4 linked regions of the Homo sapiens genome follow. The protein of the gene in region 4 binds, or shares a complex with, the protein of the main gene of each other region. Each region holds a gene or a part of one and is shown on either strand. Other genes may lie near its edges. The genes, in order: DHX16, BUD13, CWC22 and EFTUD2.

What was found.
Region 1: EFTUD2 (region 4) and DHX16 share a complex: the UniProt entries of both Homo sapiens proteins name them as parts of the minor spliceosome.
Region 2: EFTUD2 (region 4) and BUD13 share a complex: the UniProt entries of both Homo sapiens proteins name them as parts of the minor spliceosome.
Region 3: EFTUD2 (region 4) and CWC22 share a complex: the UniProt entries of both Homo sapiens proteins name them as parts of the minor spliceosome.

What each region holds. Positions count from the first base shown.
Region 1 is NC_000006.12:30,662,987-30,670,020, reverse strand, and holds part of DHX16 (pre-mRNA-splicing factor ATP-dependent RNA helicase DHX16), read left to right. Parts: intron 1-2,693; exon of another isoform or gene 2,694-2,836; intron 2,837-3,207; exon of another isoform or gene 3,208-4,126; intron 4,127-4,287; coding exon 4,288-4,542; intron 4,543-4,746; coding exon 4,747-4,950; intron 4,951-5,028; coding exon 5,029-5,220; intron 5,221-6,999; coding exon 7,000-7,034. UniProt on the Homo sapiens protein: Required for pre-mRNA splicing as a component of the spliceosome. Contributes to pre-mRNA splicing after spliceosome formation and prior to the first transesterification reaction.
Region 2 is NC_000011.10:116,755,954-116,762,987, forward strand, and holds part of BUD13 (BUD13 homolog), read right to left. Parts: coding exon 6,600-7,034; intron 5,000-6,599; coding exon 4,782-4,999; intron 3,227-4,781; coding exon 3,121-3,226; intron 2,455-3,120; coding exon 2,316-2,454; intron 1,998-2,315; coding exon 1,813-1,997; intron 1,275-1,812; coding exon 1,193-1,274; intron 1-1,192. UniProt on the Homo sapiens protein: Involved in pre-mRNA splicing as component of the activated spliceosome. As a component of the minor spliceosome, involved in the splicing of U12-type introns in pre-mRNAs.
Region 3 is NC_000002.12:179,944,376-179,948,331, reverse strand, and holds the end of CWC22 (pre-mRNA-splicing factor CWC22 homolog), read left to right. Parts: intron 1-2,616; coding exon 2,617-3,203; 3' UTR 3,204-3,456; downstream 3,457-3,956. UniProt on the Homo sapiens protein: Required for pre-mRNA splicing as component of the spliceosome. As a component of the minor spliceosome, involved in the splicing of U12-type introns in pre-mRNAs. Promotes exon-junction complex (EJC) assembly.
Region 4 is NC_000017.11:44,896,418-44,903,459, forward strand, and holds the start of EFTUD2 (116 kDa U5 small nuclear ribonucleoprotein component), read right to left. Parts: upstream 3,029-7,042; 5' UTR 2,952-3,028; exon of another isoform or gene 2,558-2,951; intron 1-2,557. Other genes in the region: DNAAF19 (dynein axonemal assembly factor 19), read left to right, coding at 4,582-4,724, 5,103-5,235, 5,948-6,400. UniProt on the Homo sapiens protein: Required for pre-mRNA splicing as component of the spliceosome, including pre-catalytic, catalytic and post-catalytic spliceosomal complexes. Component of the U5 snRNP and the U4/U6-U5 tri-snRNP complex, a building block of the spliceosome.

The sequences.
Region 1 (7,034 bases), on a different chromosome or scaffold from region 4:
CTGACCATTCAGCTTAGGCACACCATCTCCAAATACCTTCCCACCACCTAATTCCTGCACCCCTTATGTGGCTTTGTGATCTCCCTGTGTCTTCTCACTGGACAGGGACAGAGCCCTTGTAATTCATAAACTGGACTTTTTATGGTGTGAAACTAGGTAGGGTAAGCTGTTTTCCAAAGGCCTGGTCTTGTCAAGTAAAGTCACACTTAGATTCCCCAATACCCCAATAGAATTTTGAGACTCTTGAAGTTCCTTTTTTTTTTTTTTTTTTTTTTTAAACCTTTTTTCTTTTTTTTGAAACGGGGTCTTGCCCTGTCACCGAGGCTGGAGTGCAATGATGCGATCTCGGCTCACTGCAACCTCCGCCTCCTGAGTAGCTGGGATTACAGGCGCACACCACCACGCCTGGCTAATTTTTTGTACCTTTAGTAGAGACGGGGTTTCACCATGTTGGCCAGGGTGGTCTCGAACCCCTGACCTTGTGATCCACCTGCTTTGGCCTCCCAGAGAGCTGGAATTACAGGCGTGAGCCACCATGCCCAGCCTTCTTTTTATTTGTTTTGTTTTATTTTTTATTTTTATTTATTTATTTTTGAGATGGAGTCTCACTCTGTTGCCAGGCTGGAGTGTGGTGGTGCGATCTCAGCTCACTACAACCTGTGCCTCCCTGGTGGAGGAATCAAGCGATTCTCCTGCCTCAGCCTCCTGAGTAGCTGGGACTACAGGCCTGCAGTACCACACTCGGCTAATTTTTTGTATTTTTAGTAGAGGAGATTTCATCATGTTGGCCAGGATGGTCTTGATCTCTTGACCTTGTGATCTGCCCGCCTTGGCCTCCCAAAGTGTTGGGATTATAGGCATGAGCCACTACGCCTGGCCGTTTTTACTTTTTAAAATTCATTTATTTATTTTTTTGAAACAGAGTTTTGCACTTGTTGCTCAGGCTGAAGTGCAGTGGCGTGATCTTGGCTCACTGCAACTTCCACCTCCCGAGTTCAAGCGATTCTCCTGCCTCAGCCTCCAGAGTAGCTGGGATTACAGGCATGAGCCACCTCGCCTGGCTAATTTTGTATTTTTAGTAGAGATGGGGTTTCTCCATGTTGGTCAGGCTGGTCTTGAACTCCTGACCTCAGGTGATCCACCTGCCTCGGCCTCCCAAAGTGCTGGGATTATAGGCGTGAGTCACCACGTGCCCGGCCAACTTTTGGAGTTCTAAGAATGGCCTACTGGTTCCCAGGTCTCTCCTGACCAATTTATCTCATATCTCTTCCTGAAATTGACTGTGGTTAGGCTTCTGGGACATCTCAGTGCAGTTGTGGTGGTAGTGGTGTTACTGTTTTGGCCTGAATTTAATTTTTCGGGTTTTTTTTGAGACAGAATCTCATTCTGTCGCCCAGGCTGGAGTGCAGTGGCATGATCTCGGCTCACTGCAACCTCCGCCTCCCGGGTTCAAGTGATTCTCCTGCCTCAACCTCCCGAGCAGCTGGGACTACAGACATGCACTAGCATGCCTGGCTGATTTTTGTATGTTTAGTAGAGATAGGGTTTCACCATGTTGGCCAGTCTGATCTCAAACTCCTGACCTTTGGCGATCCACCCCCCTCGGTCTCCCAAAATGTTAAGATTACAGGCGTGAGCCACTGTGCCCAGCTGTAATTTTTCTTTTTCGATTACAAAAATATTTAAGCACATAGGGAAGTTGAAAGAATAGAACAAAGAACACTCATAGACACTATTCAGATTGAAAAATGGTTAATACTATGGGTAGTATTTGCATTGTAATTGTAAATGTGGTATGTTTTTTCTTTTCAGACCATTTAAAAGAGTCTTAGACATCATGGCGTTTTATCTCTAAGTACATCAGTGTGTACCTGCTAAGGATAAAGATATTGTCCTCTAAAATCAGAATGCTCTTGTCACAGTCAGGAAGTTGAACAGTAATTCTTATGTATCGACTAAGATCTCTCTACAATAAAAGATACCCTCATTACCCTCAAAATAACTTTAATGACTGCTTTTTCCTAACAAGAATGCAGTCAAGGTTCATGCATTGCATTTGGGTCTTAGATGTTAAGTTTGTTTCTCTCTCTGTCTGTCTCACCTTGCAGTGTCCTACATTCTGGATTTGCCTGATTCTTATCTTGTGGTGTTAAGTACTTCTCTGCCCTGTGCTTTCTTTGAAGCAGGAATTGGGTCTAAAGCTTATTGACACTCAGATTAAACAGTTGTGGCAGGAACACTTCTTGGGCGGTGATGTGCACTTCATATTATGTCATATCACGGGGACATACTATCCAGTTGTGTATCTATATATTAGTATTAATATCCTTTCTACCAATAGCCTTTCATCAAATGCTTTTAGAAGCCACTGGTAATCCTTTCCTGAACATGTTATTTTTATTGGGGATTGCAAAATGGTGATTTTTTTTTTTTTTTTTTGAGACAGAGTCTCGCTCTGTCGCCCAGGCTGGAGTGCAACGGTGCGATCTCGGCTCACTGCAAGCTCTGCCTTCCGGGTTCATGCCATTCTCCTGCCTCAGCCTCCTGAGCAGCTAGAACTACAGGCGCCTGCTGCCACGCCCGGCTAATTTTTTGTATTTTTAGTAGAGATGGGGTCTCACCATGTTAGCCAGGATGGTCTCGATCTCCTGACTTCGTGATCCTCTTGCCTCAGCCTCCCAAAGTGCTGGGATTACAGGCGTGAGCCACCGCGCCCGGCCGAAATGGTGATTTTTTGATTCTGTCATTCCTGTTACGTGTATTGGCTAGAATTTGTCTATAAAGAAGAGCTTTTCCTCAACAACTAGGAACAAGCTACAGTTCCTTCTTAAAAAGGGTAAATGTTTGTTTCCTTTTAAATACGAATTTTTAGAGTAAGGCGTTTGCTGTAACAGTCATTTCACTGGTGACAGATTTTTTTCCCTTGTTTTTTGTTTGTGTGTGTCAAATTGGACTCATGAATTTTTATTTTTCAGTATTTTATAATCTCACATCATTATTCTTTTTAATGCTCAAATGGCTCTGATTTTTTGCCCATATTAAAAAAAAAATCTATCTGGCTCTTCCATGGAAGGAATATTTGACTGTGGTACCCAGATTAGGTCATGATCATAAACTGCATTTTAAGTCTTTACAGAACAAACAAGAAAAGCCAAACAACTAAATAGAACCAGGCCCCTTAAGGGTAGAACAGCAGAGGGGCTTTTTTTTTAAAGATGCAGTTTTGTTCTTGTTGCTCAGGCTGGAGTGCAATGGCGTGAGCTAAGCTCACTGCAACCTCCGTCTCCCGGGTTCAAATGATTCTCCTGCCTCAGCCTCCCGAGTAGCTGGGATTACAGGTGCCCACTACCATGCCCAGCTAATTTTTGTATTTTCAGTAGAGACGGGATTTCACCATGTTGGCCAGGCTGGTCTCTAACTCCTGACCTTAGGTGATCCACCCACCTCAGCCTTTCAAAGTGCTGGGATTACAGGTGTGAGTCACCACGCCCACCCAGCCACCAGAGGGGCTTTGACCTTGCAGTAGAGGAAGTTGTGATCACAGAGAGGATGATGTCATAGTGGGAGGACTCCTGGCAGGAAAGGGCCTTATAGATATTGCCAGTTTTCTGCTGTCATCCATAATGTGTCCTGAAAAGTTTGTATCAAAGGTAAATGTGTAGAAACTAAGTGAGACACAGCATGGTGAAGAGAGGTTAGTACCAGAAAGCCAAACATCCCTGATTACATTTGCCTTACAGAAACACTCTGATGCTGTAGTCCTAACTTTTTATAATCAGTTTTTCTCCCTTCCTCAAACTACAGTCATTCCGTTTAAGACCAAAGAACATCTAACTGGGGCTGAAGATTGCCTCCTGTTGGCCCCCTCACTGGTTTCTATCTTTGTCTGAATTGTTTTCGGTTTGAGTCCTGTGCTTCTAAATGCTGGATTAGCCTTTTATTTTCCCCCTTTCCACTAATTTGAATAAAATGGCAAGAGTAAAATATAAGCTACGCAGACATCTCCCTAGTGCATCTATATTAACAAAGATGATAATGCTGCCTAAGAGGACTTTCCAGCTGGATTCTGCTGCAGGAAGATACGATGTGGGGTCAGCATGTAGCATCCAAAGAGGCCCAGATTTGAGTATGTCATTGTTTTGGTTGTGCATTGCAGAGGGAAGGTAGAGGGTGCATCCTGAGGTTCTCATGCCTGCCTGTCAGGGGATTTTTCCCTTGTAGGGATTGGTAGAGAAAGGGGTTGCTCCTCCAGCAAGATGAGGATTCGACTGTCCTTTCCCAACTCAGGTCCCTGAGCTGCGGAAGAAATCTCGCCGAGAGTACCTGGCTAAGCGGGAGCGAGAGAAGCTTGAGGACCTGGAGGCGGAGCTGGCTGATGAGGAGTTCCTTTTTGGGGACGTGGAGCTGAGCCGGCACGAGCGGCAGGAGCTCAAATATAAGCGGCGAGTGCGGGATCTCGCCCGGGAGTACCGGGCAGCTGGGGAGCAGGAGAAGCTGGAGGCCACCAATCGCTACCACATGCCCAAGGAAACCCGAGGACAGGTGAGGTGAAGCGGCGTCTGCTTCAGCCTTGGTCCCCAAGACAAGTTGTGGGGAAGGCTTCAGGGGATTGGGCAACACGTGGGTCATCCCCTTTCTTGCCTTGCCGTTCCCAATGGGCAGTGGGCGGGGGTAGTAATGGGAAGAGGGGAGAGGGCAGAGAGGACATCCTGTTTTTGAGTCTTCACATATCCCCTCTCTCTGTAGCCAGCCCGAGCTGTGGATCTAGTGGAGGAGGAATCAGGAGCCCCTGGGGAGGAGCAGCGGCGCTGGGAGGAGGCGCGGCTTGGGGCAGCGTCCCTGAAGTTTGGGGCCCGAGATGCTGCCTCTCAGGAGCCCAAGTATCAACTGGTGCTGGAGGAGGAGGAGACCATTGAGTTTGTCCGGGCCACTCAGCTCCAGGGTGATGAGGTAAGAGGGGAGCTGGGAGACTTTCTGAGGAAGACCCGTAGCGAGCTATTTAGCTCACACCTCCTTCTCTTTCCTTAGGAGCCGTCAGCTCCACCCACTTCAACTCAGGCCCAGCAGAAAGAGTCCATCCAGGCCGTCCGCCGCAGCCTCCCGGTGTTCCCATTTCGAGAGGAGCTCCTGGCTGCTATTGCAAATCACCAAGTCCTCATCATTGAAGGCGAGACAGGCTCAGGGAAGACCACCCAGATCCCGCAGTATCTCTTTGAGGAGGTACAGTCATCTCACCCTTCAGCTTGCCAGGGCACCTGGCATCAATGTCCTCATTCCTGTCAGAGCTCCTTTTACATTATATTTTTAGTAGTCACTTACCTATCTTTTCCACTAAATTGTGAAATTCTTGAGAGTAAAGACCATACCCTTTTCACATTTCTGTTCTCACTTCCTGCATTCATTTCATTTGGAAGGACGGGTAGATGGATAGGTGGAGTGGGGCGTGTATAAATGTGGACCTCCCTATGCTCCAACGTGGCCAAAAAACAAGGAGTTAAAGGACTATTTTCCTGCCTTTTTGTTAGTTTTTTTTTTTTTTTTTTGGAGACGGAGTCTTGCTCTGTCACCCAGGCTGGAGTGCAGTGGTGCGATCTTGGCTTACTGCAACCTCTGACTCCTGGGTTCAAGGAATTCTCCTGCGTCAGCCTTCAGAGTAGCTGGAATTACAGGCATGCGCCACCACACCTGGCTAATTTTTTAGTAGAGATGGGGTTTCACCATGTTGGCCAGGCTGCTCTCGAACTCCTGACCTCAAGTGATCCAGCCACCTCAGCCTCCCAAAGTGCTGGGATTACAGGTGTGAGCCACTGTGCCTAGCCCCTGCCTTATTTTGGAGACAGGCTCTTGCTCTGATGCCCAAGCTGGAGTGATGTGGCACCATCATGACTCACTGCAACCTGGGACTCCTGGGCTCAAGAGATCATCCCACCTCAGCCTCCTGAGTATCTGGGAGGTGCACACCACCATGCCCATATTAAACATTTTTTGTTTTTTTTTGAGGTGGAGTCTTGCTCTGTCACCAGGCTGGAGTGCAGTGGCGCGATCTTGACTCACTGCAACCTCCACCTCCTGGGTTCAAGTGATTCTCCTGCCTCAGCCTCCTAAGTAGCTGGGACTACAGGTGCGTACCACCACACCCAGCTAATTTTTGTATTTTTAGTAGAGATGGGGTTTCACCATGTTGGCCAGGATGGTCTCAATCTCCTGACCTCGTGATCTGCCCACCTCAGCCTCCCAAAGTGCTGGAGTTACAGGTGTTAGCCACTGTGCCTGGCCTGAAATTTTTTTTTTTTTTTTTTTGAGACAGAGTCTTGCTCTGTTGCCCAGGCTGGAGTGCGGTGGCATGATCTTGGCTTACTGCAACCTCTGTCTCCCAGGTTCAAGCGACTCTCCTGCCTCAGCCTCCCAAGTAGCTGGAAATACAGGCATGCACCACCATGCTCGGCTAATTTTTTGTATTTTTAGTAGACGGGGTTTCACCATTTTGGCCAGGCTGGTCTCGAACTCCCAACCTCAGGAGATCCGTCTGCCTCGGCCTCCCAAAGTGCTGGAATTGCAGGTGTGAGCCACTGTGCCTGGTCAAAATTTTGAATTTTTAATTTTTTTGTCACACTATGTTGCCCAGGCTGGTCTCGAACTCCTGAGCTCAAGCCATCCTCCCACCTCAGCCTCCCAAAGTACTAGGATTACAGGCATGAGCCACTGTGCCCAGCCTTCCTGCTTTTTTACCTTAGCTGGCTCTGTCTCAGCTAATCTGTTCTTTTCCAGCTCAAGTCTAGCAGAGTCATGAACTTAATTACCCAGAGCTGGGTGAGGACCCCCTTTGAGGGCCCTAGGTCTGTCATCCTATCTATTTGCCCTTCTTTTCTGGTTTTCAGCATCTGTCTTTTCCTCCTTTTCTCCTGCCTGGTTTTTACAACTTCTTTCTCTGAAATGTACCTGGTCCCAGGGTGCATATTTAGTAAAGGGCAAACTTCTTCTTTTTTCTTTGTCATTCAGGGTTATACAAACAAGGGTATGAAGATTGCCTGCAC
Region 2 (7,034 bases), on a different chromosome or scaffold from region 4:
ATCCCAGCACTTTGGGAAATCGAGGCAGACAATCATATGAGCCCAAGAATTCAAGACCAGCCTGGTCAATGTGGCAAAACCTCGTCTCTACTAAAAATGCAAAAATTAGCTGGATATGGTGACACATGCCTGTAATCCCAGCTACTCAGGCCACTGAAGCATGAGAATTGCTTGAACCCGGGAAGTGGAGATTGCACCACTGCACTCCAGCCTGAGCAACAGAGCAAGACTCTGCCTCAAAAAAAAATAAGAGTGGTTGGGCATGGTGGCTCACCTGTAATCCTGTAATCCTGTAAGCCTGTAATACCAGCACTTTGGGAGGCTGAAGTGGGCGGGTCACCTGAGGTCAGGAGTTTGAGACCAGCCTGGCAACATGGTGAAACTCCGTCTCTATTAAAGATACAAAAAATTAGCTGGGTGTGGCAGCGGGCGCCGGTAATCCCAGCTACTCGGGAGGCTAGGGCAGGAGAATCGCTTGAACCCAGGAGGCAGAGGTTGCAGTGAGCCGAGACTGCGCCACTGCACTCCAGCCTGGGCGACAGGGCGAGGCTCCATCTCAAAAAAAAAAAGACTGTAAAAGGGTCCTGAGATTAAAAAGTTTAAGAATTATTGTGCTAGATACTAAAACAATGTCCTTTAGTAGGCAAGAGGAGATGGGATCTAATATGTGAGTATACAAACTGACTTTGGATGGAAGCAAATATTCATCCATCATAACAGGAAGTTAGAGTACGTGGGTACAGATGTTGGTAGGTAGACAGATGAGGTGGGGTAGAGGACTGGAAGACATTAAAAGTGACTGCCTCCTAAAACCATAAAGTGAATAAAGATTCAGAGGCTACATTTTAAAGATATATCAGGTAGAAGGCTCCAGACTACAACTCATCACTCAACCCCTCTAAACCTTACAAAATATCATTAAAAGTAACCAATGTCCAAAACAAAGGGTGTCTTATCTGAACCACCTGAGGTGTTTGTCCAGAGCTTTAAAAAGTATTATGAAAAGGAAACAGAAGGAGGAGTGTTCCAAGCATGAGAAATAGGATTTGTGGACCTCAGAAAAAGAAGCAAGCAAAGTGCATATTTTTCACCTTGTGATTAAAGCAGAGAATGAAATAAAGTGTGGAGCAACTTACGAGTGGTTAGGGAAGGTTACAGTCAGGTAGAAAATGTAAGAAATACCCAGGCTTACCTGTCCACTCCGTCCCAGCGATATCCAGGCCAGATATTAAATCTGTTGGGAGGAGGTGCTGGACCACTGTAGCGAGGTCTCACTAATGAGAGGAGTAAGAAAAAAGTATTCAGTTAATGACATAGTTTAATTCAGAGCTGGATGGCAATGTGGAATTTTCCTTTTTTTTTAGTAGAGTCTCACTCTGTTGCCCAGGCTGGAGTACAGTGGCACGATCTCAGCTCACTGCAACCTCTGCCTCCTGGGTTCAAGCAATTCTCGTGCCTTAGCCTCCCAACTAGCCGGGATTACAGGCGTGCACCACCATGACCGGCTATTTTTTTTTTTTTTTTGTATTTTTAGTAGAGATGGGGTTTCACCATGTTGGCCAGGCTGGTCTCGAACTCTAAGGTGATCCACCCACCTCGGCCTCCCGAAGTGCTAGGATTACAAACATGAGCCACTGCGCCTGGCCTGGAAAAATTTTTATATAGAAAGACCAATTGAGTTGAATCTAAACTCACAAATACAATGAATTTAAATTATTTGGGAAATCCTTCTTTGCATATAGCTATGTATCAGCATCCTAATGATTCTCTCTTCACAAGTCACCTCCAGCTGATGATTCCCAGAAGTCCCACCTTTTTTATTCTTGTTCTCCTTGGCCTTATTCTTCTTGATGAAGTTGGCCATAGGGTCCCCCTCTCTTTCCTGTTCTCTTAGCATCCTATCCAGATCTTCGTCATCAATATAGCGGGCCAGAGGCTTTTGCATCTCTTTCATTGCATCCTCCACATTTTGTTGCTGTTGCCGGCTCTGGGCAAGCCTGGGCAAAAAGGAACCAAGAGTGTTTGCTATCCTGTATGACATTTCCACTTCTACACGAGATGGACCATACTGCTAAGTTTGGACAATCTCCTCTTTCTAGTACCCTAGGGCAAATACTGAGCAGGGTAAAATTCCCAGAATACCCACTAGAAGCGTGGAATATATCAATATCCTAGGAAGAAGATTCAGCACACCAAATTTCCCATTACTGATAACAGCTCTGAAGGCATAATAAGAAAGTGAGTGATCAGAAGAGCAGAGAAATGACTTGTTCCAGTCACTGCCATCTTGTTTACCCTTTCAGTGGTTCCCTTACCCTTTTCCCCACTGGGCATACAGCTCATCTCTCTCTGAGTCCTTTTCTGCTTTCCTCCTTTGCTCTAAACGTTCGAGTTTCAAATTCCTCTTACGACCAGACTTATCTCGAAATACGGTTTCAGCATATTGAAATTCAGCTGCAAAGGAAAATTATACTCAAATATCAGGATCAAAATCAGAAATAACATTCTAAGAGATCAAATCAACCGCTTGGGATTCTAATGCTAGATAAGAACTTCTGCAGCCAGACCAAAGTAGTTCCTACCAACATCTTGGTGCATATTGGCACTGGGCCCAAGAAATGGCATTTTCCTTTTTTTTTTTTTTTTTTTTTTGAGATGGAGTCTCACTCTGTTGCCCAGGTTGGAGTGCAGTGGCGCGATCTTGGCTCACTGCAACCTCCACCTCCCAGGTTCAAGCGATTCTCCTGTCTCAGCCTCCTGAGTAGCTGGGATTACAGGCATGCAACACCATGCCTGGCTAGTTTTTTTTTGTATTTTTGGTAGAGACAGGGTTTCATCATGTTAGCCAGGCTGGTCTTGAACTACAGACCTCAGCTGATCCACCCGCCTCGGCCTACCAAAGTGCTGGGATTACAAGCATGAGCCACCGCGCCTGGGCGAAATGGCATTTTTCAAGAAGGAAAGAAGCACTGGGATTCACTGAGAAATTACAACAATGCATAAAACCAGAGCTGAAATTTGATAGCAATTAAAAGTTCAAAATATCAGGTACAATAAGCTAAATTAAAAAAAAAAAAACAGTATGAGCCTAAATTGGTCTCTGCACTTTCATATTTTTACCTTCAAATGCCATGGTTTCTTGATCCTGTTCCTTGAGCTCCTGCTGTTCTCGCTGTATGTCAGTTAACACCAACCCAGTTTTAGCCCCAGAATACATGTGTGCAGCCTATGCAACGGAAAAGGGAGCATCCAACATTAATGAGATGATGTGACAGTAGGCTCCATGGGTACACAGTTAGTTGCATTTGTGTCTAATGACCAGCAATAATTAAACCTAAAACTCTAGCTTTATATTCTCAATAATTACCATAGGATTCAAAAACTATAAAAGAAAACCATCATCAAAACCATCAAGTTTAAGAATAAGCAGAAACACTAACAATATATTAAATGGAGGGCTACGCATTTGTATTTCTGACTTTTCAGTATATAAACTGCACACATGAAGACTATCTCAGGTCATCTGATCAGAAACCAGTATAAAGCACTAAGCCTTCCATTAGAGACCCATACTGATAAAATATTCCATTTACAGTACAAACTCAAGCAAACCTAAGATCCTTAAATTGTGGATATATTTCATGGTAATAACAGAAGATCTAACAAATGAAAACTTTTTGCTAATTTCCACTTAGCATCAAGATAGCAAATCAGCCCACGAATGAAGCACACAGTATATCTTGATATCCTTCAGCAACGAAATTGGAATAATATTAAGTTGTCCATGAACTAAATGGATATATAAAATGCCAAGAGGTCCAGCTGAAACAGAGACCTCTTTTTTCCCTAAAAAAGAAGAATCTCACTTCCTGGGTAAAGAACAGGCTGGTCTACCCTGCCAGGACCAGTCTTCTCAGAGTCTTCTACAGACAAGATTTACCTGATAAGTCTGCACTGGGGAGAAAAATGCACATCACAGGCTCTATCATTCTGTTTCTTAACCACTTACAAATAAGATTCCTTTACTACTACCAATGTTCTTTACAATATAATTACTCAAGGTTCATATGGATTTTGGGGTTTTTTGGCTAATTCATCAAGCCTTATCATGAATTTAAAACAAACCATTGACTTCTCAGACAACATGATTTCTAAAAGTGGTTTCATATTTTAAGTGCCTCTCCTTAAGCTCTGGATACAGAGACCTATAGTCCAATTTATACTAGTAAATCACTAACACTAGATGCTTACTTTGTCCCAGACACTGTGCTAAGAGTTTTACTTACACTGGCTTAATTATCATAACAACCTTACACAGTAGGTACTACTATTATCCACAATTTACAGATAAAGAAACTGAGGTTTAGAGATATTAAGCATCTTGCCCAAATCTCACAGACAGTAAGTGGCAGAAGGAGAATTTCTGTATGTGATCCGTTTGACACAATGCTTGTGCTCCAAACTTCACTCTGCAAATTACAGTCCTCGGTTTATTCCTAAGAAAATAGGAAGTTTTTCTAGACCTGTTAAAATGAGATTGTAGAATTAAGAGGCTATAAACGCAGAAGCTACTTGGGAAATCTGGTATCTGTAAGTCCATCTGGGATGGGTTATAGCCAGTTTGCCTTCAGAAGGAAAGACCTCCAAAGGTCCTTTTAACTAAGATTTACTACACTTCTCAGAGCTACATCCTTCTTCTTGGCTTGATTCTCTGGGACATATATAAAGCTGAGAGAGAAGAGTCACACGAAAAGAAGGACATGGCTCCTGAAAATCCTGACCTTCTTTCCAGGAGGCTGACTCCTTCGAGGCGGGGACAGGTCAGAATCAGAAGATTTGGTCCTCTGTCTCCTCCTTGGTGGAGAGAGGTCAGAATCAGAGCTCCGGTGTCTAGGTCTATTCCGTGGAGGTGACAGATCTGAATCAGAATCCTGGTGCCCTGGACTTTGTTTATGCCGTGGAGAAGAAAGGTCTGAATCAGTTGCTTTCTGGCAGTCACCTGGATAGGAGCAAAGAATCTGTGTGACTCTGATGTCCTCTAGGTGAAGAACTTACATGAAATCTCCTATGGCTGGGAGAAGAACCTAGAAATTAAAGAATTCCTTACATTATTATTATTTTTTTTTTTTTGAGACAGTCTCAGGCTGGAGTGCAGTGGCATGATCTCAGCTCACTGCAACCTCCGCCTCCTGGGTTCAAGCAATTATTGTGCCTCAGCCTCCCAAGTAGCTGGAATTACAGGTGTGTGCCACCACGCCCAGCTAATTTTTGTGTTTTTAGTAGAGATGGGGTTTCGCTATGTTGGCCAGGCTGGTCTTGAACTCCTGACCTGAGGTGATCTGCCCACCTCGGCCTCCAAAGTGCTGGGATTATAGGCTTGAGCCACCATGCCTGGCCAAAGAGTTCTTTAATCCCCTTGGAAGAATCTAAAAAGATAACTTACCAAGCTAATGTACAATATTTATTTAGTTTTCCTATGAAGAATTATCATTAACCTAAACATAAGTATGGATGGCACAGGAGAAGAGCAAAGTCAGAAACAACTTTTAAGACCAACAGGTAGAATATGGCATTCTATTCCCAAGTGACCACTGACTGTAACTGGTGTGTAAAATCTCCACACACTCCTCTATGTCAGTAACCCCACCCATGGAAAGACAAAATAACTTGTAGTCAGCTCTCCATAGTGTGGCAAAAGTCAGAAATACCTGGAATATAGTCTGATATCCTTGGACTAAAGGATAACAAAGTACTTTAATTTTAAAATTAAAATAGTTCCTAGGAACAAAAGAGGGAGTAAAAAATTTCACTGCACAGGCCTAAGTTCTAGCGACTGTATAAGCATCACAAGTCACCTCCCAAAGGGCATTCTGCAATATGTATCGACAGTCTTTAAAACGCCCACATCTTCTGACCCAGTACATCAACTTCTCAGCTTTCTAGGAAACTTATATAGAAGTAGTTGAATTTCGAGGAAATCTATCTAGAAGTAGATAAGGAAATAATCCAAAATGGGGACAACAGTTTATGTACAAGGATGTTCATTATAGAATTACAGAAGAAAAAACTTAGAAATAACCAAAAACATTCATTATTAGGAAAATGGTTAAATTTGTAATTAAACACTATTAAAAATTATACTAACATAAAGATGTTTTATGGCCTGAGGAAGACTACGTTAAGAAAGGACAGCAGGCAAGATTGCACATGCAATACAAATGTTCTACACAGCCAGAGCTCAACTATATAAAAAATGCAAACCAAAAAAGACTAAGATGACCCTGGCCACAACACTAACAATAATTGCCTCTGAATGACAGAATTTTGTGTCACATTTTATCTTTATATACTTCTGTACATTCCAAAGCTTCTGCAACAAATAAATTGTACTTTTATATGGGGTGGAGCGAGCACATAAAAAGACATATGAAAACCTTCCTCCCTGCCACCATAATTGTTCAACTCTCCCAAACCCAGCCTCTCACTTTTCAAAACTTTCCCAAAGAAATTCCATTCTTATACCTAATAAATCAACTAAACGGCCAAAAGAAAGCTCCCAGGGATACATACATCCCTCTCATGGACAGTCATATGCTCACCTTTGGAATCAAGCTGCTTCTTGTCTCCAAAATGGGATTTTGCTTGCTTTTTTCGTGGAGGAGAGATGTCAGGGTCATACTCATATTTGCTGTTCTTTGGGAATGACAAATGGGAGGCTCCTGACTCCTTCCAATGTGGAGAAGTCTTGCTAGAGGCTCTTTCTGGGGCTTTACCACTTTTGGTTCTGGGCAGGGAATAAGTGACATTAGGAGCCAAATCAGGGGAGTCATGACGGGCCCTTCTGAGTTGCTGTGTGTCTGAAGAGCCAAGAGTCCTCCTAGATGTGTCAGGGGAGTTGTTATGGACCCTTCTGGGGGAAGAGATATCTGAGGAACCATGACGGGCTCGCCTAGGAGGAGAGGGATCTGGTGAATCATGACGGACTCTCCTAGGAGATGCACCTGAAGAATTATGCTGAGGCCTCCTTGGGGGAG
Region 3 (3,956 bases), on a different chromosome or scaffold from region 4:
GAAAGTATTGTCCCTCTTCCCTCATTTATTTATTTAGTCAACTGTAAATATCAATATAGACTCACGGTTATTTATCTTATCCTGTGGGTTAAAGTCCAATACTGTCATTTATTTTGCTCAAATCATCTTAGCTTTGGCAATTAGGAGTTCCTTCAACTTGATTTCTGTGTGCTTTTCAACATTTTTCAATGCAACATTTTAAAATTGTATCTGGCATTTCTAGTTATTTTCAGCAGGAGCACAGGTTTGCCACAGTCTTCTCTATCCTACCTGGAAGTGGAAATGCTATAGTAAAAGATGTTTTCAAAGTTTGATCTGGTTCACAGTTTCTGAAAAGATCTGTGTTGTTTTACCCAAGGTCAGCTCTGCTTTCTTTCATTACAGTATCTTGGTCCAAATAAGGGATTGTCTGCTTATCCTACATGCATGTCATTTCTCATTTTGTTTTGTTTGGATGCAATATTTCATCAAATATGGCATCAATACTTTCCTCTGTAGCCTTAAATTGAAAGGCCAATCTTTACACCTTTGTTCCATAGCTTGTTATGTTTCAAAGTGTTTTACATACTGTGTGACATCCAGAATTGTGGGGCTGTTTTTTTAATTATCAGAGAAAGATTGTTTGCTTACAGGAACTTTTATTCATGAATTGAAGTGTACAAACATTGTTCATTTAACATTCACCATTTTTATATTCTACAGAATTTGTTATTTCATGGTATCCATTTTGAGAACAGATGATAACACAGCATGAATTGCTGCAATAAGGAAGCTTGCTGATTCAAAATTAATTTGCCTTCTCATATAATTTCAGTAGAGAACTTTGTTTTATTAATAAAATACTAAATAGCATAAAAGCAGCATGAACTGCCCCAAAATTAGGAAATTATAATGCAAACATAGCAAACGGAGAAGAGATTGCCTCTTGTTACATGGCTGGGTTTTAATATCAGTAAAGCCCGACAGTGGTGTACAGTAGGATCAAGGGGACGCTGGTTTAGCACAGAGCCAGATGGTTTCTGCTTGGGTAGCTGCAGCTCAGCTGAGCTGTTTGATAGGAACCAGAGAAATAGGTCCTTAGTGGCAAACCAACTGACTGTACCATGTGCCAAAGATATGCATTTAGCGGAAGAAATAGAGGCTGGTACAGTGAGATTTAGGTAGAATTAGGGTGACAAGAGGCACTTTTCTATCATATTTTCTCTTTCTTGCCTATGTATGAATTTGAGAGAAATTTTTGTTATCTTAGCATCTTTGATTTGTGCACCCAAATTAAATAACAGATAAACTGATTAAGTTTGTTTTATTGCTTAAAGTGGTTATTTCAGTATAACCATTTTGTATTTATAGTTGTGATTACATCAGCAAAATCAAATTGTTTGAGGTCTTTTCAGAAGAGTTTCTACAGAAACTAAGCCTTTGTGGCTCTAATAAAGCCCATGAGTGTAAATCTTAACATATCTGCTCTTGTTGGTGCAGTTAGTGCCTCTCTGATAGTAACAGAGGGGAGAACTATTGTTTTTGCAGGAAGAGACCTTTCATTGAGAAATATATGTTCATGCTGTTAAGCAAACCCAGTTGTTCTACTCCTCCTATGTTTAGGAAGTGAATGCTAGTTTGGGTGATCATTGTATTTTGATCTGACTTAATAGTCCTATGAATAACACTCTATGGGCTGGAATTTCAGCTTTTGGATTCAATTTGTTAAGTAGAAATGTACCATTTGAGTCGCTTTCTAAAATTTTTACATTTGCTATAAAATTTCTGTTTACTGTCTTAAATCTCGAGATCAAAACAGTACTTTGGTAACTAATGTTGAGATATTATATATTCCCCTTCCTCCCTCCCCTCCCCTTCCCCCCCCCCCTTTTTTTTTTTTTTTGGACAGAGTCCCACTTTGTTACCCAGGCTGGGGTGTAGCGGTGCATTCTTGGCGTACTGCAACCTCTGCCTCCCAGGCTCAATTGATCCTCCCACCTCAGGCTCCTGAGTAGCTGTGACTACAGGCTGACGCCACCACAGCTGGCTAATTTTTTGAATTTTTTGTAGAGAAGGGGTTTCGCTACGTTACCCAGGCTGGTCTCCAACTTCTGGGCGCAAGCAATCTGTCCCCCACCCCCTCTGCTTCCCAAAGTGCTGGGATTATAGGCATGAGCCACTGTACCTGGCCTGAAATATTGTATATTCTTAAAAGGCCGAGGCAGGCAGATCACCTGAGGTCAGGAGTTCGAGACCAGCCTGACCAACAGGGAGAAACCCTGTCTCTACTAAAAATACGAAAATTAGCCAGACATGGTGGCAGACGCCTGTAATCTCATCTATTCGGGAGGCTGAGGCAGGAGAATCACTTGAACCCAGGAGGCGGAGGTTGCAGTGAGCCGAGATTGCGCCACTGCACTCCAGCCTGGGCAACAAGAGCAAAACTGTCTCAAAAAATAAAATAAAATTAAGCATTTGGTAAGACTCTGTGTCATCAGACTTTCTATTCAATCAATTTGGCTTTGCACCTAGTTTATCTGAGTTAGTAAACCTACACTGTATCAGTAAATGTGATTGTTATAATTATGAAATTAAGATTGAAATAAAAGCTAACTGTCTTTTATTTTACACACGCAGCTAATGATGTAAGAAAGAAGGGACATGGGAAGACCAGAAGTAAAGAGGTAGATAAATTGATCAGAAACCAGCAAACAAATGATAGGAAACAAAAAGAAAGAAGACAAGAACACGGGCACCAGGAAACAAGGACTGAGAGAGAAAGAAGGTCAGAAAAACACAGAGATCAAAATTCAAGTGGTTCAAATTGGAGAGATCCTATAACAAAGTACACATCAGACAAAGATGTTCCTTCTGAACGAAATAACTACAGTAGAGTTGCGAATGACAGAGACCAAGAAATGCATATAGATTTGGAAAATAAGCATGGTGATCCCAAAAAGAAGAGAGGAGAGAGAAGAAATTCTTTTTCTGAAAATGAGAAGCATACACACCGAATTAAAGACAGTGAAAATTTCAGAAGAAAAGATAGATCAAAGTCAAAGGAAATGAATAGAAAGCACTCAGGCTCAAGAAGTGATGAAGATAGATATCAAAATGGTGCCGAGAGACGATGGGAAAAATCTAGCAGATACTCTGAACAATCCAGAGAATCAAAGAAAAATCAGGACCGGCGAAGAGAAAAGTCTCCAGCAAAACAAAAATAATTCTACAAAATGACATAAACTGGACATGCCTTATATTCAGTTGAAACAAATTATTTTTTACTTTGACGAACTTTATAGAGAATTCTTGTATAAAGTATTGGTTTGTATTTGTAAATTTAAAAAATGTTTTCATTTTAACATGTTTTATAATTGATACATCTCAAGGCCCTACCCATAAAATTATTTGAAAACTTTCACCAGAAAGGGATGTAAGTCTCGCTTATATTTTGTGAATAAAATGATCAAAAGCTCATTGATTCAGTGATGTTTTTTCAATTGACAAAATATTTTTTTAGTTGTTTAAGAAGCTGTTATAGTGAATTATCAGTGCTTTTTTGTTTGTAACTGAAGACCAAAACAGGTGAACCTTTTCAGTTTAACAGTTTTGCTTTGTTAATGAGATGTTATGAATCTTTTTCAGGTAGTCACTTTTTTTTTTTTCAGTAGAGGATTTGTTACAATTTTCATATTAGGCTTTGAACAAAGTATGTAATGTGTAATTTTTTTCACAAGTGTTGGTAAAGCTAGGTGTATGTTACTCTTTAAACCAATACGCAGTTATTTATAATTAGAACTTCTCCCACAGGAAATATTTCTTCTCTCTGGACTCCTTGATATCATTTAATTGAAATTCTTTGTGATTAGTGCATTTTTCTCAGCCTTGAAGTTATATCACTGTTGATGAATTAATGTGTATTTAATTTTTAGTTTAGGTTAATAGATCATTGGAAAACATATAGTTGTGAAATATGC
Region 4 (7,042 bases):
TGGGCGGATCATGAGGTCAGGAGATAGAGACCATCCTGGCTAACACAGTGAAACCCCGTCTCTACTAAAAATACAAAAAATTAGCCAGGTGTGGTGGCACACACCTGTAGTCCCAGCTACTCAGCAGGCTGAGGCAGGAGAATCACTTGAATCCAGGAGGCAGAGGTTGCAGTGAGCTGAGATCGCACCACTGCACTTCAGCCTGGCTGACAGAGTGAGACTCCGTCTCGAAAAAAATAAACAAAATAAATAAACAAATAGTAGTTACTAATTACCATCACCAACTATAGTTTATAAGCAATAAATAACAGACTAGAGCATCAGGGCTCTGGAGTTGGAAGACTTAGATTCAAATCCCAACTTTGTCACCAACAACTATGTAACTTGAGGTAAGTTACTTCATCTCTTCCAACCTGATTCCTATTCTTCAACTGGAAAATGGAATGAATAATCCTCACTGAATAAATGGTTATGAGGATTAAATAAAACACCCTGTGTAAAGAATTTACCAGAGTCCAGCTGGGTGCAGTGGCTCACGCCTGTAATCCCAGCACTTTGGGAGGCTGAGGTGGGTGGATCACGAGGTCAGGAGATCGAGACCATCCTGGCTAACACGGTGAAACCCTGTCTCTACTAAAAATACAAAAAATTAGCCAAGTGTGGTGGTGGGCGCCCGTAGTCCCAGCTACTGGGGAGGCTGAGGCAGGAGAATGGTGTGAACCCAGGAGGCGGAGCTTGCAGTGAGCGGAGACAGCGCCACTGCACTCCAGCCTGGGTGACAGAGAGAGACTCCGTCTCAAAAAAAAAAAAAAAAAAAAAGAATTTACCAGAGTCCTAGGCTCAATAAACGTTAGCTAGCATTATTTTTTGCCATCCTTGATCATGAGAACCCTGTGTTCCATGCACCTGCTTCTTCTCTTCACTTCTTTTATGATACTAAATTTAATTTTAAAATAATACCAAAAAGTGGCAAGAACAGTACAAATAACTTTCTTTTCCCCAAATATTTGACAGTATGCTGCTGACACAATGCCTCTTCACCTCCTAATACTTTAGAGCAAGAGTTGACAAACTCTGACCTGTGGCCAAATCTGGCCCCTCCAACTGTTTTTGCATGGTCCTCCAGCTAAGAATGCATTTTACATTTTTATTTTTTTATTTTTTTGAGACGGAGTCCCGCTCTGTTGCCTAGGCTGGAGTGCAGTGGCACGATCTCGACTCACTGCAACCTCCGCCTCACAGGTTCAAGCGATTCTCCTGCCTCAACCTCCCAAGTAGCTGGGATTACAGGCACCCGCCATCACACTTGGCTAATTTTTGTATTTTTAGTAGAGACGGGGTTTCAACCATGTTGGCCAGGCAGTCTCGAACTCTTGACCTCAGGTGATTAGCCCACCTCGGCCTCCCAAAGTGCTGAGATTACAGGTGTGAGCCACCGCACCCGGCCACATTTTACATTTTTAAATAATTGAGAAAAAAGTACCAATGCTAACACAGCCAATAGCCAAGACAGCACCTTGCATAAGTAGGAACTGGATAAATGTTAACTGAATGGGATGTTTAATTTTAAGATGCTGATATTTCTTGGATTAGACTGATACCTCCAACTCCCTCAATGCCACCTGCTGGGTGCTGAATGTAGAGAGAGAATTGGAGCTCCAAGGACCAATAATTAAATGTAAATTATTATGGAAACTTTCACATGCATATTCTTTTTACTTCTAAAAAGCTACTATCGCATTTATGCTTATCTCATTCTCCCAAGACCCCAGTCAAGGGATTGAAGAAATTATTTATTTATTTTATATATATTTTTTGAGACAGAGTTTTGCTCTTGTTGCCCAGGCTGGAGTACAACGGCACGATCTCAGTTCACTGCAACCTCCGCCTCCTGGTTTCAAGCGATTCTCCTGCCTCAGCCTCCCGAGTAGTTGGGACTACAGGAGTGCACCACTACGCCTGGCTAATTTTTTTGTATTCTTAGTAGAGATGGGTTTTCACCATGTTGGCCAGGCTGGTCTCGAACTCCTGACCTCAGGTGATCCGCCCGCGTCTTTCTCCCAAAGTGCTGGGATTACAGGCGTGAGCCACCGCGCCCGGCCGATTGAAGAAACTGTTATAGAAAGCTGTTCATGGAACAAGCCAAGCTCATTTCTGCCTCAGGGCCACTGCACTTGCCTTTCTCTTTGTCCAAAACGCTCTCCCCTTTGATATTTTTCACCTTGTTCCTTTATTTCAATCAAGTCTCCACTAAAATGTCATCTTCTCTGTCACTCTAAAAAGTCCCCCATACATACTCTCCAACTTCCCACTTTCACTGTTTTATTGCTATTCACAAATGTTATACATTTATCACTAGCTGACTTGTATCTAGTTGTTTACTGTTCATTTCCCCAACTACAATTGAAGCAAAGACTTTGTTCACTTAGTACTGTGCCTAGCATAGACTAAGCCCTCAATAAGTATTTACTGAACTAATGAATGACTCTAACAAGGTACACAGAATATAGCTGATTTGCCCACAGTTACACAAAACTAGCGACTCATGGTAACAAACCTCACTGCCGCTTCCCGCTACAATGCAGGAGCTCAGAGGACTTCGGAGGGAACTTGGCAAAGAACGGCTGAAAGCGGCACGGATAGAAGAGGAAGTGAGCGAGGGGACTGGACAGTTAGAGCACCACTCCTACCTAGCGATACGATTTTACGGACTGAGGCTATAGAGGCAGCCCCGAAATCGAGGTGTGTGCGTGTGTGCGCGCTTCGGAAGCCTTGGGAAGGCACGAGGACGACAGGGTCTTCCATTCTTTTTCCCGCTCCAGGCCTCAATTTACCGATCCGTAAAGCGAAAGGGGCCAATAGCATATAAGGCCCCTTCCAGATCTGACGCTTTTTAATTTCCTATCCCACCTGGAGCAACCCTTCCGTGCCGCTGACCCGCTTCAACTTACCTCTCGCCTGCTCAGCTAAGAGTTCCCAGGCCGCTGCCGGAGATCGTGCTTCCGCCCCACGCCGAGGAAACGCCTGCGCCCGCCGCCAGGAAGGACCCCGCAGACGCCGCTGTCGCCTTTCTGCCCGGGAGGACAACCCTCTGCCTGAGGACCAGTTCCGAGGTATGCCCGCCGCGGACTGGCAAGGCGGAGTAGCGGGTCCCCAAGACGAGTAGCCCAAGACGTGGGCTGCTCCAAAGAGGGTGAGAGCTGAGGATGAACGAATCTGATCAGGCGCCTCGGGACCACCCTGAAAATGGGGGGAGGGGCCTTCGGGCAGATCACGTGGTCAGGCTGTTAGCGCAGTTGCTAGGCAACCACAGCTGCGGGCGTGGTCTGCGCGGGGTTGCCCTCCTGTTCTGGTTTATCAGGGGATCCCCAAAGAAAGCAAGGGGACCAAGGCCGGGACTGCTGGGGTGAAGGTCCGGGAGGCTGAGTAAGGGGACGGAAGGGTTAGTTCTATGTATTAAATGCCTGGGGAGGGCTGAGAACTGGACACCTGATTTCGGTTACTGGCCACCCCAGCCCCTTCTTGGCGTTCAGATTCCCTACGTTGGGGTAGGGTGGCTATGGGATTGGTTGGGGACTTCCTGCTTCCTTGCGCTAGGGCTGTTGGTGATGACCCCGCCACAAAATCTAGCTCAACTCACTAGGAGTTTGCAGTTCAGAGAGGTCCCACAAGTAAATGCCAGAGCCACGACTAGAACCCACGTAGAGAATCTCTCTGCAGTGGCTCACGCCTGTAATCCCAGCACTTTGGGAGGCCGAGGCGCGCGGATTACTTGAGGTCAGGATCGAAAATTGCTTGAACCCCGGAGGCAGAGGTTGCAATGAGCCAAGATCGCGCCACTGCACTCCAGCCTGGGCAACAGAGCCAGAAAAAAAAAAAAAGAAAAGAATATCTCTGTAGAAATGATCAGTCAGCCTCAGATATGCAGAAACTACAGAAGTACAGTGATAGAACTAAAGGCATTGCCCAGGTACCTAGGGACCTCTGTTCCAGCCCTGGGCTGGACAGAGGGATTTGGGGATGGGGTCATTGAGCTCCTTCCTTTGCCCCTTCTACTTGATTTCCTGCTCAGTCATTGCATCTGGTTTGGGTGAAAGTCTCCTTCCTCATTAAAGACATTCAATGAAGAATGAAACTTTATCCCCGAGCTCAAGGGTAACTAACAAGAGTTCTGCCTTTGTGTGAGGTCCCCTGTCGAAACGACTTGCTGTAGAACAATCCTATGGGGGAAGAGTGAAGAAACTGAATTCTGAGATCCCAATGCCTCCTCGACTGAAGCACCAAAATTAAAAATATTTTTAGAGGCAAAGAGCAAAATTAAGACAGAACTCCAAATTGAAAGTCAGGACTCTGTATTCTATTTTCAGGGACAAGTCTTGTGTAAGTCCTCACTGTGAAATTCAACTTGTCTTTGTAAAATAGAAAACCAGATTTTTGTAACACCTCCCAATCTGAGTGACATGATGTCCAGAGTGCTTTGGGGTCATTTTGTGTTCTGGTGAATAATTCAGAGGTACCCTCTTTCCCCTGATATTGACTGTCCACTGACATGTATTCCCTTTGCCTTCCCAGGCACAGGCCATGGAAAGGAATGACATCATCAACTTCAAGGCTTTGGAGAAAGAGCTGCAGGCTGCACTCACTGCTGATGAGAAGTACAAACGGGAGAATGCTGCCAAGTTACGGGCAGTGGAACAGAGGGTGGCTTCCTATGAGGAGTTCAGGTTGGCTCACTGCCATTTTTCTCAGGCCCTCCTGTTATGGTGGATTATAGTAGTTAACTCTGAAATCAAACCATTCTGGGCTTCAGTCCTGGCCCCACCGTCTACTGTTTGATCTTATGCAATTTCCTTAACTTCTCTGAGTCTCAATTATTTATCTGTAGAACAGTAACTGTTATAATTAAATGAGTTCTTGCACATAAGACTGAGCAAGTGTCTGACACATGTGAGGTGCTTGAAAGCAGTCAGCTATCGCTGTTGTTATTATTATGGTCATATTGGTCCGTAACAGGTTTATCCTATACCATGCAAAGTCTAGCTGCCTCACACCCACAGACACAGCATTAAGTCCATTGCCTAATTTCTGTCCTTTGCCTACAGGGGTATTGTCCTTGCATCACATCTGAAGCCACTGGAGCGGAAGGATAAGATGGGAGGAAAGAGAACTGTGCCCTGGAACTGTCACACTATTCAGGGAAGGACCTTCCAGGATGTGGCCACTGAAATCTCCCCGGTAGGTGAGGCCCTGCCCCTTTAGTCCAGCAGGATTCTCTGCCCTAAAGCTTCAATCCTGTTTTTTCATTTTGTTTTGTTTTGTTTTGTTTTTTTAACCACACATACCTCTTCTTTATTTGTCATGTTAAACCAACAGAGATAGGTTTCTGCCTCCAATCCCAGAAAGAAAAACAAACAGCAGATGGCAAAGCTGAGTTGAAGTGGGCAGAATGAGTCAGAAAGTTGGGCTAGGAAGGTCGGCTTCCCTTAGTCCTTTGACTTTCATTCTCAGATCAGAATTGGGATGCTCTGCCTCTGGGTTGTATGGTGTCTAGTGTAATGATCCTGTGGCAGTGTTGAGAGAGAGACCCCAACATTCAGATCCTTGAGTTCCTTTCTCTCTTCCTGAGATTTCCAATCAACCCATCCACCCGACTTACAGTAAACCCTGACTTACTCTTGAAGACCAGAGCTATGTCTCCATTCATGAGTAGGAAAATTCCAGTATAAATGAGAATCTCAAATCATGGCGTGGATTCCTTGGGGCCCTCCCTGTTTCATCCCCAGTTTCCTCATCTGAAAATGAGGCCGCCAAGGACCACAGCTTTCCCAGTGCTCAGACAGTAGTGAGATGAAGACAGTAAGATGAAGAGCTACAGGCTCCCCTCCCTGTCACTGTTGCAGAACAGCTGGAAGAGCTCCTGACTCCCTTTCCTTCCTTTGTGGTCCAGGAGAAAGCCCCCCTCCAGCCCGAGACGTCTGCTGACTTCTATCGTGATTGGCGACGACACTTGCCAAGTGGGCCAGAGCGCTACCAGGCTCTACTGCAGCTTGGGGGTCCAAGGCTCGGCTGCCTCTTCCAGACAGATGTGGGATTTGGACTTCTTGGGGAGCTGCTGGTGGCACTGGCTGATCACGTGGGGCCGGCTGACCGGGCAGCGGTGCTGGGGATCCTATGCAGCCTGGCGAGCACTGGGCGCTTCACCCTGAACCTAAGCCTGCTGAGCCGGGCAGAGAGAGAGAGCTGCAAGGGCTTGTTTCAGAAGCTGCAAGCCATGGGCAACCCCAGATCCGTGAAGGAGGGGCTCAGCTGGGAGGAGCAGGGTCTGGAGGAGCAGTCTGGTGGGCTCCAGGAGGAGGAGAGGCTCCTGCAGGAGCTGCTGGAGCTGTACCAGGTTGACTGATGCGGCAAGCTACCCTCAGAGGTCCCAGTGGTCACTGGAGGCAGTTTTTTGGTTGTTGTCTTGGGGGTTCTGCAGGACCATAATAAGAAACCCACACCTGGTTCCCTTCTCAACTTGGAATTTTCAGAGCAAAAACAGGAATCAAGTCTTCCCCACTTCTCCAGTCCCTCAGTGTCTCGCTGTTTTGAACTGTGTGTATCCATGGACAGTCAAGAGCTCAGGAAGTTGAGAGCGGTTTTGTTTCCCACCCTTAGAGTCTGCCAAGCCTCTAGCCCACTGGCCTTGAGAGATGAGTGTGTGCCCAACCAAATGCTGGCTATACCAGTTACAGCCTCCACTCATAAAAGGGAAAAAGCAAAATCTTTATGGTAAACAAACACTGATCTCCACAGCTCTTAACAAGAATGTTTATAGCCCCAAACCAATGAATGGACATGTAATCAACAAATGATCAAATACTACATCATTTGAGGTGTTGAATTTTCCCCTAGAGACTCAGTTCTTGTGCAGGTTGGGCCTGGGAAAGTCCCAAGCCATCAGCTCAGGTCCAGCCAGCCTCCCGGATGGCCAGATATGCAGGAGGGTGGGTTTCCTTCATCCCCCAGGTTGATGAAAGACTTTTCCACCAGGCTGGCAGGGCAG